Linked DNA regions of Homo sapiens: region 2 is linked to region 1. The links come from fine-mapping of genetic effects on gene expression. A gene starts in region 1. The other region holds a variant in brackets. All regions are shown on one strand. Distances are between the middles of the regions. Region 1 holds the start of NUBPL (NUBP iron-sulfur cluster assembly factor, mitochondrial). Region 2 overlaps NUBPL (NUBP iron-sulfur cluster assembly factor, mitochondrial).

Region 1 (5,389 bases):
TAAGTATATCTTATGGACCTAAGGATAGGAAGTCCGGTTGAACCTCATTATGAACTGGAACCAGGAACTGAAAAGTTATGAACCAGTGCAGCTCTTCTCCCTTTCCTCTATGGTAACATGATCTCTTATGATCTACTTTCTTCTTCTCTCTTGCATTGGCTTTATCTGCTTCTGCATGCACATAGTAGAAAATAGTAATTTCAACTGTATTAGCTCAAAGACAAACTAAGATTGACTAACACCTGTTACTTTTATTTTCCAGGCTCTCTGGAGAATTAATCTGATTGGTCAATTTTTTGGTTGTACATCAGTCTTTAGTCCAATTAGTGACCTTGGGAATGGGGTCAAATGACTTAGCAATTCTTAGGACCAAAGGAGAATACCCTTTTGAAAAGAGGCCATGGATATGTATATGTGTGTCAGTGTTTTTTGGAGAAGAAACATCTCTACTACTCTCCTAAAATTTTAATTTGGGGAAAGGTAAACCAAAGTAATGATTCAGCCATTCTACAAACATTATTCTCACTTGCTCCTCCTCTTATGTTTTCTCTCAGGGAATTCATCTAGTTGCTCATGTCATAAACCTCTACACAACCAATGATTACCACAATAGCTAACAATTACTAACTCTGTGACAGCTGTTCTACATGCATTATCTTAAGTTCAACCTCACAACAACCATAGAAGTAGGAATTAACTATTTTATTGATAACAAAGTGAAATTTAGAGATGTTAAGTCAAGCCTTCAAGAGAGAGACCTCATGTCTCCTTGTCTCTGATCTTGCCCCGCTGATCCATTTCTTTTTTAACCCAGTAATCATAGTGGTATTTCTAAAACACAAATCTGATGTTACTTTCCTGCTTAAAATCCTTCTATAGTTCCCTTAGGATAAAGTCCAAATTTCTTTACAAGATATATACAGCCTTTCTTGATTTAGGCAACCTCCATCTAACCAACCTTCACTCCATCCTCATCTCTTTTAGTCACTTTGTCCTAAGTTGCACAGATCATTTACAGTTCTTAACAATCCAGAAAAGAAATGTATTTTCTACTCCTCTTGTGTTCTCTCTTCTTTTCTCTCTTCTTTCTTTTTTTATTTTTATTTTTGATATCTTTTTTATTTTTTTATTTTTATTTTTTAGTATTTATTGATCATTCTTGGGTATTTCTCGGAGCGGGGGATTTGGCAGGGTCATAGGACAATAGTGGAGGGAAGGTCAGCAGATAAACATGTGAACAAGGGTCTCTGGTTTTCCTAGGCAGAGGACCCTGCGGCCTTCCGCAGTGTTTGTGTCCCTGGGTACTTGAGATTAGGGAGTGGTGATGACTCTTAACGAGCATGCTGCCTTCAAGCATCTGTTTAACAAAGCACATCTTGCACCGCCCTTAATCCATTTAACCCTGAGTGGACACAGCACATGTTTCAGAGAGCACGGGGTTGGGGGTAAGGTTATAGATTAACAGCATCCCAAGGCAGAATAATTTTTCTTAGTACAGAACAAAATGGAGTCTCCTATGTCTACTTCTTTCTACACAGACACAGTAACAATCTGATCTCTCTTTCCTTTCCCCACATTTCCCCCTTTTCTATTCGACAAAACCGCCATCGTCATCATGGCCCGTTCTCAATGAGCTGTTGGGTACACCTCCTAGACAGGGTGGCGGCTGGGCAGAGGGGCCCCTCACTTCCCAGACGGGGTGGCCGGGCAGAGGTGACTCCACCTCCCGGACGGGGTGGCGGCCGGGCGGGGTCTGCCCCCCACCTCCCTCCGGGACGGGGCGGCTGACCGGATGGGGGCTGCCCCCCACGTCCCTCCCGGACGGGGCAGCTGGCCGGGCGGGGGCTTTTCTCTCTTCTTTCATCTTTCTTCCTTCTACTCTCTTCTTCTTTCTTCTTCCTTCTTCTTTCTTCTCCTTTTAATTTCCTCTTCCTCCTTCCTCCTTCCTTCTTTCTTCTTCTTCTGACAAGGTGTCACTCTGCTGCCCACGCTGGAGTGCAGTGGTGCAATCATAGCTCACTGCATCCTTGAACTCCTGGCTCAAGCAATCCTCTTGCTTTGGCCTCCCAAAGTGTTGGAATTACACGCGTGAGCCACCATGCCTAGCCTTAGCAGTCCATTTCTAACCTCTTTACAACAATCTCCTTGCCATTCTCCCAGCTAACTTCTACACATTATTCAGATTCAGCATTCAGCTTAGATATTACCTAATTTAGAAGCTTCCCCTGATTGAATTGAGTGCCCTTTCTTTGTATCACTTTGTCCTTTCTCCTGTATCCCTCAATGCTTTTCTCCTGTACTTATCATATTATACCGCAATTTTGTTGTTAACTTATTCTGTCTTTTGCACTGGATTATAAAGCCCTTTAGTGGAGGAATTATGTCGGTCTCAATGCTGAATATTTTAAGTCTACTGTAGTACTCGGTACATAGTAGTTGCTCAACGAATATTTGTTAAATAAATGAGTCTTAAGTCTGGAAGAACTTGCAAAGTTCTTTACCAGGTTGCTGGTAAAGCAACCTGACCTTTCTTTCAGGGAACTGTCAGCAACACAAGCCATGAATACCAACGCAAAACAGACTCTCACTGTAGATCACACGGGAAAAAATAAAATAAAAAGGTAAAATCCTTAACGGTGGTAGTATTTAAATGACCATATACTGCTTAGTAAGAAATCCTGGGGTCATTTTCAAGGTCCCCCATTTCCTACTTTTGTTAAGCTGGGTCAAGTCTCTTTAAACTTTCTCCGTTTTCTTGTCCATAAAAAGAGTATACTAGGTAAGTCTTCTGTCTACCTCGGGACTTCTGTAAGTATCATAAGAGATGTTTTATATGACAACACTTCACAAACGTTTAGTAAAACGCTGCAAAATGTTTGTAGCTGGCTATAAACAAGATCATGCAGATTGGGTTCCTGAGCCAACAAACCCAAAGAAGACCGGTTGCTAGGAAGAGAAAGCCGAGCGTTGCTCCGTGACGTCATCACTCCGCGCCACCCGCGACAGTTTCCCAGCAGGGCTCACAGCAGCGTTCCGCGTCATGGGGATTTGGCAGCGTCTGCTGCTTTTTGGTGGGGTGTCGCTCCGGGCTGGTGGCGGGGCCACTGCCCCGCTTGGGGGAAGCCGAGCGATGGTTTGTGGGCGCCAGGTCCGTGGTGCTGCAGGGCAGGGGGAAGCGGGCTGACAGATGCTGGGCTGCAGGGCCGCAGATGCCCTGGCATTGCTTCTTGCCAAAGACTCGCCTCAGTTCCTGAGACCCCCAGTGTGCTGGACGTGCCTACTTTTCAGGCAGGCCCAGGCTGAGGCGTGGCGGGACTTGAAACACAGTTAGAACGTAGATGTGGTATTCTACATTGCTTTCTTGGCTTTGGGTTATTTATCAAATAGATTGAAGAAAAGCAAAACACGTGGAAGCCTTATCTCCGTAAAGAGGCAGCGTTTTTACATTTTTAAACGTTCAGCGTATCCTGCTAGAAAAATTTCAATTTAAGCAATGTGTCTTTACAATTGTTATCAGTAGTAGTAGGTAAATGTCTCCATAGTGAAGATGAGCAGAATTAGAAAAGAAAGCCCTCTTAATTGCAAACCCCAGATTGTTTTTGCTTTTACAGTGTGATGATGGAGATGGCTTATTTAAAACGGCTTTTTATTATTATTATTTTTTAAAGTTGTCTGGCGCCGGGAGTGAGACCCTAAAACAAAGAAGAACACAAATCATGTCCCGAGGACTTCCAAAGCAGAAACCGATAGAAGGTGTTAAACAAGTTATAGTTGTGGCTTCTGGAAAGGGTGGAGTCGGAAAATCTACTACAGCAGGTATTATAGGATATTAATTCTATTCCTGATTAAGAACTTATGCCAACAGACAAGTGCACACTATTGAAATTATAGTTTTGTGTTTTAAAAATTTATTTGTGAAGTTCCTAACATGTGATTCCTTAGTTTCAGGAGTTGGTAGCGGGTAGACGCTTAGATTTTGGAGTTAGACAAAAGTAGGTACTAGCCGGGTCTCCCACCCCTTAACTCAGGAAAAAGTGGTCAGATTGTACAGCAAATCTTCAGTTCACTTAACTGTAAAATGGAGATAACTTCTTTCATAAGATGGTTATTCAAATTGCACAAGCTAACCACTTAGCTTAGTGTTTACTAGTGTTCAATAATTGGTTGCTGTTATTTTTAAAACATCTAGTAACTTTTTTTTTTTGTTTTTTTTTTTTTTTTTGAGACGGAATCTCGCTCTGTCACCCAGGCTGTAGTGCAGTGGCGCAATCTCGGCTCACTGTAAGCTCCGCCTCCCGGGGTTCACGCCATTCTCCTGCCTCAGCCTCCCAAGTAGCTGGGACTACAGGCGCCCACCACCACGCCCGGCTAATTTTTTTTTTGTATTTTTAGTAGAGACGGGGTTTCACCGTGTTAACCAGGATGGTCTCCATCTCCTGATCTCGTGATCCGCCCGCCTAGCCCTCCCAAAGTGCTGGGATTACAGGTGTGAGCCATCGCGCCCTGCCTACTAGCTCATTTTTCCCCATTTTTATCAGAAGGGAATTCTGGAAGAATTTGTCAGATGTTTTGGAAAAGTTAAGATTTACCAAATATTGTATTTGTGGTGGATCACTAATCCATTACTATTTGATAGATACCATATTGTTAAAAAAAATTAATAATCTGTTCTTAATGAATTCATGTGCTCTCCTGCACATTTTTCCTTTCTTTCCTAAAGGTTTACAATCCATCTGGTTGTTTTTAAAATTTAGAAGCTCTTAGTTTTTGGTTCTAGAACCTTTTGGAGTACATTTTTCAGTTTTCAGTGGTTTGAATCCTTTTGCATGCTCTGTGATTACTTGAACTGGATAAGGATGGAAGGTGTTTTCATGATTGTAGCCATAAGTTCTTTGCGTTTTGTAATTTGTTGGGTCTGTAGGCTGGCACTTGTTTAAGATTGTTTGTTTATTATTTTTAGTTGGAAGATGATTGTTGCCATGAAATGTGAAAGCATTTAAACAGGAAAATGTATGAGAAAGTGTACAACATGTGACACGTAATGGGTGCTTCAGTAAATGTCCCTTTCTCACTTTTTTTCTGTTAACATTATACCATCTGTCCCGAAAAGCTGGCCCATACTTTTTCATAACAGCTCTGTGAGCATATCTAAGTCTTAAAAATAGGTTATTTTTATGTAACTCTATTGGTATTATTAATATATTTCTTTTCCTTATATGTATTTATTCCTGCCTCAAACTACTTCAAAATACTTCCCATTTGAATATACATGCTAGAGATGTTTTAGATTAGAATGATGACATTTGACTAATGCAAATATGCTCAGTGATTCTATTGTTTAAATGTAGGAAGAACCTAACTCTAAAATGAATTGCCCTCTGAAAGTTTC
Region 2 (5,389 bases), 130 kb after region 1:
AATTAAGATGTATTTTGCAATTGATGGCTTTTCAGCATTGCTTTATCCCTGTATTGAAGTGGGGTCCTTTCAGAAAGGTTTTGTATCGTTTTTGCAGTCACCTGGAATGCTTTAACCTGAGGCACTTTCAATTTAATTATCCGTTAGAAGTTTTGGGGACCACTCTGGTGGTATGAATACAGATCGGAAAGCTGCATGTATACCAACTGGTGGTTCATGTTGTTAAGGAGGTGTTTTCTCCCCTCTGCCATGGCCCAAGTTGAGAGATTTCTTTCTAAATTGTGGATTTATATATTATTTATCTTTGGTTTAAGATGATGTAGTCCTTTGGGATCCTAGCTTTATGTAGGATTCTCCTATTAGACCCCAATTTATCTTAGGTGTTTTTTTCGTTTAGTGCTACACAAAATAATGATGCATCTTATAATTAGTGGTGTATTAGATTTGTTGATGTTATAATGGGTATCAACATTGTTACCAGCATTATCCCTGAGACACCTCTTCTGTCATGGCTTGAATTAATGTTGATTATAGTAAGGGAAAGTAATGAATTGAGGACTTCTCTTTGGTTAACATTCATATTTGGAGGTGTGTGATTTAGTGGGAGGAAAAGGAGTTAGTAAACAGGAAAAGAAGTAGTTCAAAAGGTAGGAAAAAACTAAGGATACTAATGTCATGAAGATTAAAGGTTTGGAGCAATGGTTTTCCAACATATCTGTATATTAGAATCATCTAGGGATTTTAAACAATTTTCAAATTTCAGCTCACACCTCAGACCAATTAAATTACAAATCCTGGGCATGTGACCCAGGCATTATCACTTTTGGAACTGTCCACCTGATTCCAGTCTGTGGACAAGTTTGGGAATCACTGGTGTGGAGAGTTTTAAGAATGATAGGTCAGGGAGAACAAGGATTGAGATAGGGCAAGGGAATAATAGATGTTCGGTGGAAATTTGTAAACCTTAACTAGAACAGGGAATGAAAAAAGATTATAGGGGTTTAAGAATACATTTATAACAATACTATGTAGGTAGAGGTGTATTCTACCTATATAGAGAGTATTGTATTCTAAAATAGGCCATTCAAGAATTTGGGGGCTGGGTGAGGGAAAGGAAAGGAAAATAGGATGGTAGCTTAAGGAGGAGTGGTATATTAAATTAAAGCCTTTTTTTTTCTTAAAGAGGACAGCCATACCTTTTACAAGGTGAAAGGATTCAGTGAAGAGGCAGTGAAAATTATAGAAAATGAGAGGATTGTTTTAAAAAATTATGAAAAAGGCAAAAGGGAATAGGATTAAAGGTCAGAGAGGTAAGTTATTTTTGAAAAAGAAGTTCTTCCAAATTTGTGTTTGGAATAGAAAAAAAGGGCAGATAAAGTAATCCCATCCTACCTGACACTAAAAAGAAGTTAACAAAAGGTATTCTTCCCAGTAGACGGGAAAAGATGGTGCATTTATTCAATAGAGCAGTGATGCACAGTTTTTAGTGTTCATGAAAATTACATGGAGAACTGATTTAAAATTCAAATTTATAGGCTTTCTATTCCACTCTCCCACTTGAAGATTTTTATTCAGTAGGTCCCAGGTATGGCCAAGGAATTCACATTTTAATTAGATTATTCCAGGTGACTCTAATGCTGGTGGGTCTAAAATCAGGCTTAGGCATACAATGGTACAGAGGCAGTTCTTTTTAACTGCTTTCAGAGGAATTAAAAAAAAGAGAGATGAGGAGATGAATGATAAGACCCCTGTGTAGCAGCAAAGGCCTACTGGATGCTGAATATCAAAATTTTTACTTTTGCCAAGTTTTTATGACTGTTTTCAATAACTCTTTGAAGCCTGCAAGGTGACATGGGTAAACCTTTTGTTAGATCTAGGATTAGTAACTGGTGTGGCAGAAAGTCCAAAGGAGAAAAATATCCAGGGAATTAATGAGTGGAACACTGAAGTCCTGGTTTCAAGAAAGACAGGTAGTCAAGAGGGATCAGGAGACTGGGTAAAATTGGAGAGATCAAATATGAAACACCTGGAATGAGGAAGAAGCAATTCAGTAGCTGGTAGAAGAAAAGGTGTGAAAAGTGATGGATAAGTTGGTTGTGTTCAGAGGAGGGATATTAGAAACTTAGGCTTTTCTAAAAAATAAAAGAATTTGGAAATGAGGTTATGTGAGGAAAATCAGGTCTCTAGCAAAGCAATAAAAATGTCAAGGATCAAAGTATCACACACTGGGAGCAGGGTTGCCAGGTAATATGTTGGATGCCCAGTTAAGTTTGAGCATCAGACACGCAATGAATAATTTGGGATCTGCCTTTTCTCCATATCCTCGCCAGCATTTGCTATTGCTTTTCATAACAACATGGAATGCTTCACAAATTTATGTGTCATCCTTGTGCAGGGGCCATGCTAATTTTCCCTGTATCATTTCAATTTTAGTATATGTGCTGCTGAAGTGAGCACTTGGGATCTGTCCATACTAAAATATTATTCAGTATGGCTGGGCACTGTGGCTCACACCTGTAATCCCAGTGCTTTGGAAGACCAAGGTAGGAAGATCACTTGAGGCCAGGCGTTTGAGACCAACACGTGCGACATCGCAAGACTCTATCTCTACAAAAAATAAAAAACAGCTGGGCATGGTTGCATGTACCAGTAGTCTTGCTATTTGGGAGGCTGAGATGGGAGGACTGGTTGAGCCTAGGAATTTGAGATTGAAGTGAGCTGTGATCATGCTGCTGCACTCCAGCCTGGGCAACAGAGTGAGACCCTGTTTCAAAAAAAAAATTCATTGTGTATCTCATATTCAGGCATAAATGACTTTGAGTTTCCTGTATAACTGTGTTTGAACTGTTTGAGTCCACTTATATGAGGATTTTTTTCAGTTAACCACATTGGAAAATTTTTTGCAGATTTGGAACAACTTGAAAAAACTTGCAGATGAACCATGTATCTTAGAAATATCAAAAAATTAATAAAACATCACATATGTCATGAATGCCTAAAATATATGTTGATACTAGTGTATTTTATCATGTACTACCTAAAGTATACACAAATCTATTATAAAAGTTAAAATTTATCAAAACTTATGCATACAAAACTTACACACTGTGCATGGTGCCATTAGCAGTCAAGAGAAATGTAAACAAATGTACAGATGTAGTACTACGTTATAACTGCATAAAATTCACTGTACTACATACTATACTGCTGTGATAATTTTGTTAGCTACCTCCTGTTGCTATTGTGGTGAGCTCAAGTGTTGTGAGTATCCACTTAAAATGCTGTGTGCTAATGATCTCTGCGTGAGCAGTTCATTTCTCCAATCAATTATTACAGTAAAAAGTTATGTCTTAGAGTTTTCATGTATTTTTCATTGTGTTTAACATAATAC[C/T]GTGAACCTTGAATAACACCATGGGACCATGTGAAGTGCCACTAGTGATGCTGGAAGTCTCTGAAGAAGTAGAGGAAAATCACAACATTACAAAAAAAAGTTGAATTGCTTGATATGTACCATAGAATGAAGTCTGCAGCTGCAGTTGCTTGCCATTTCAAGATAAATGAATCCAACCTAAGGACCATTGTGAGAAAAGATAAGAAAATTTGTGAAGTTGTTGCTGCAGCTACATTATCAGGCATGAAAACCTTGCACATTTTGCCAAATACCTTTTTACTTTGTATTGAAAATGCAGCTTATATATGAGTGCAGGATTGCTATAGTAAAGCATGCCTGTAGACTCTAATATTATTCAAGAAAAAAATGAAGTCATTATATAACAACTTAAAGCAAAAGATAGCTGAAGAATCTAAAGGTGGAGAATTTAATGCCAGCAAAGTATGGTTTGATAATTTTAGGAAGAGGTTTCCCTTAAAAAAATATCAATGTAACAGGAGAGGCAGTTTCTGCCAGCCAAGAGGCAGCAGATGAGTTCGTGGACATCATTAAGTAAATCACTGGGCCAGGCGCGGTGGTTCACGCCTGTAATCCCAGCACTTTGGCAGGCCGAAGTGGGCAGATCATGAAGTCAGGAGTTTGAGACCAGCCTGGCCAACATAGCAAAACCCCGTCTCTACTAAAAATACAAAAAGTTAGCCAGGCGTGGTGGTGGGCGCCTGTAATCCCAGCTACTCGGGTGGCTGAGGCAGGAGAATCGCTCGAACCTAGAAGGCCGAGGAGGTTGCAGTGAGCTGAGATTGCGCCATTGCACTCCAGCCCGGGCAACAGTGTGAGACTCCATCTCAAAGAAAAAAAAGAAAAAAAAAAAAAAAAGAAAATCTTTGAGGAGAAAGGCTATCTGCCTGAACAGGTTTTTGTTGTTGTTTTTTTTTTTTTTTAACTTTTAGGTTCAGGGGTTCAGATAAGGGTTTGTTATATAGGTAAACTCATTTCAGGGGGGTTTGTTGTACAGATTATTTCATCACCCAGGTACTAAGCCTAGTACCCAATAATTATTTTTCTTTTCCTCTCCCTCCTCCCGCCCTCCACCCTCAAGTAGGCCCCAGTGTCTGTTGTTCCTCTCTTTGTGTCCATGTGTTCTCATCATTTAGCTCCTACTTAAAAGTGAAAACACGTGGTATTTGGTTTTCTGTTCCGGCATTAGGTTGCTAAGGATAGTGGCCTACAGCTCCATCCATGTTCCTGCAAGAGACCTGATCTCATTTTTTTTTTTTGTGGCTGCATTGTATTCCATGGTGTATATGTACCATCTTTTCTTTATTCAGTCTACCATTGATAGGCATTTAGGTTGATTCCGTGCCTTTGCTATTGTGAATAGTGCTGCAGGGAACATACAAGTGCATGTGTCTTTATGGTAGAATGATTTATATTCTTTAGGGTATATACCCAGTAATGGGATTGTTGGGTTGAATGGTAGTTTTGTTTAGCTCTTTGAAGAATCACCATACTGCTTTCCACAATGGTTGAGCTAATTTACACTCCCATCAACAGTGTATATATAAGTGTTCCCTTTTCCCCCCACCCTTGCCAGCATCAGTTATTTTTTGACATTTTAATAATAGCCATTCTGACTGGTGTGAGATACTGTCTCATTGTGGTTTTGATTTGCATTTCCTTAATGATCAGTGATGTTGAGCTTTTATTCATATGCTTGTTGGCTACACATATGTCTTCTTTTGATAAGTGTTCATGTCCTTTGCCCACTTTTTAATGGAGTTTTTTTTTCTTGTAAATTTGTTTAAGTTCCTTACAGATGCTGGATATTAGACCTTTGTCAGATGCATAGTTTGTGAATATTTTCTCTCATTCTGTAGGTTGTCTGTCTAGTCTGTTGATAGTTTCTTTTGCTGTGCAGAAGCTTTTAAGTTTAATTAGATCCGCCTGTCAATTTTTGCTTTTGTTGCGATTGCTGTTGACATCTTCGTCATGAAATCT

What was found. PIP is the estimated chance that this variant, and not a neighbour inherited with it, causes the effect.
Region 2: its variant is fine-mapped to the expression of NUBPL in fibroblasts (GTEx, PIP above 0.99). The same link has a PIP of 0.9 or more in breast.

The regions. Positions count from the first base shown.
Region 1 is chr14:31,558,400-31,563,788 of GRCh38, forward strand. It overlaps NUBPL (NUBP iron-sulfur cluster assembly factor, mitochondrial), which reads left to right and starts at 3,005. Exons shown (of 11, transcript NM_025152.3): 1 at 3,005-3,148; 2 at 3,669-3,816. The coding sequence starts at 3,041. It overlaps NUBPL-DT (NUBPL divergent transcript), which reads right to left and starts at 2,932. Exons shown (of 3, transcript XR_943720.2): 1 at 2,712-2,932. RefSeq lists enhancers at 2,848-3,247, 3,174-3,729.
Region 2 is chr14:31,684,342-31,689,730 of GRCh38, forward strand. All of the region lies in intron 6 of NUBPL (NUBP iron-sulfur cluster assembly factor, mitochondrial), which reads left to right. It also overlaps the pseudogene RNU6-455P. Among named protein-coding and RNA genes, the nearest start is that of NUBPL, 130 kb to the left of the region's middle. The variant C/T (reference allele first, on the strand shown) is at 3,392.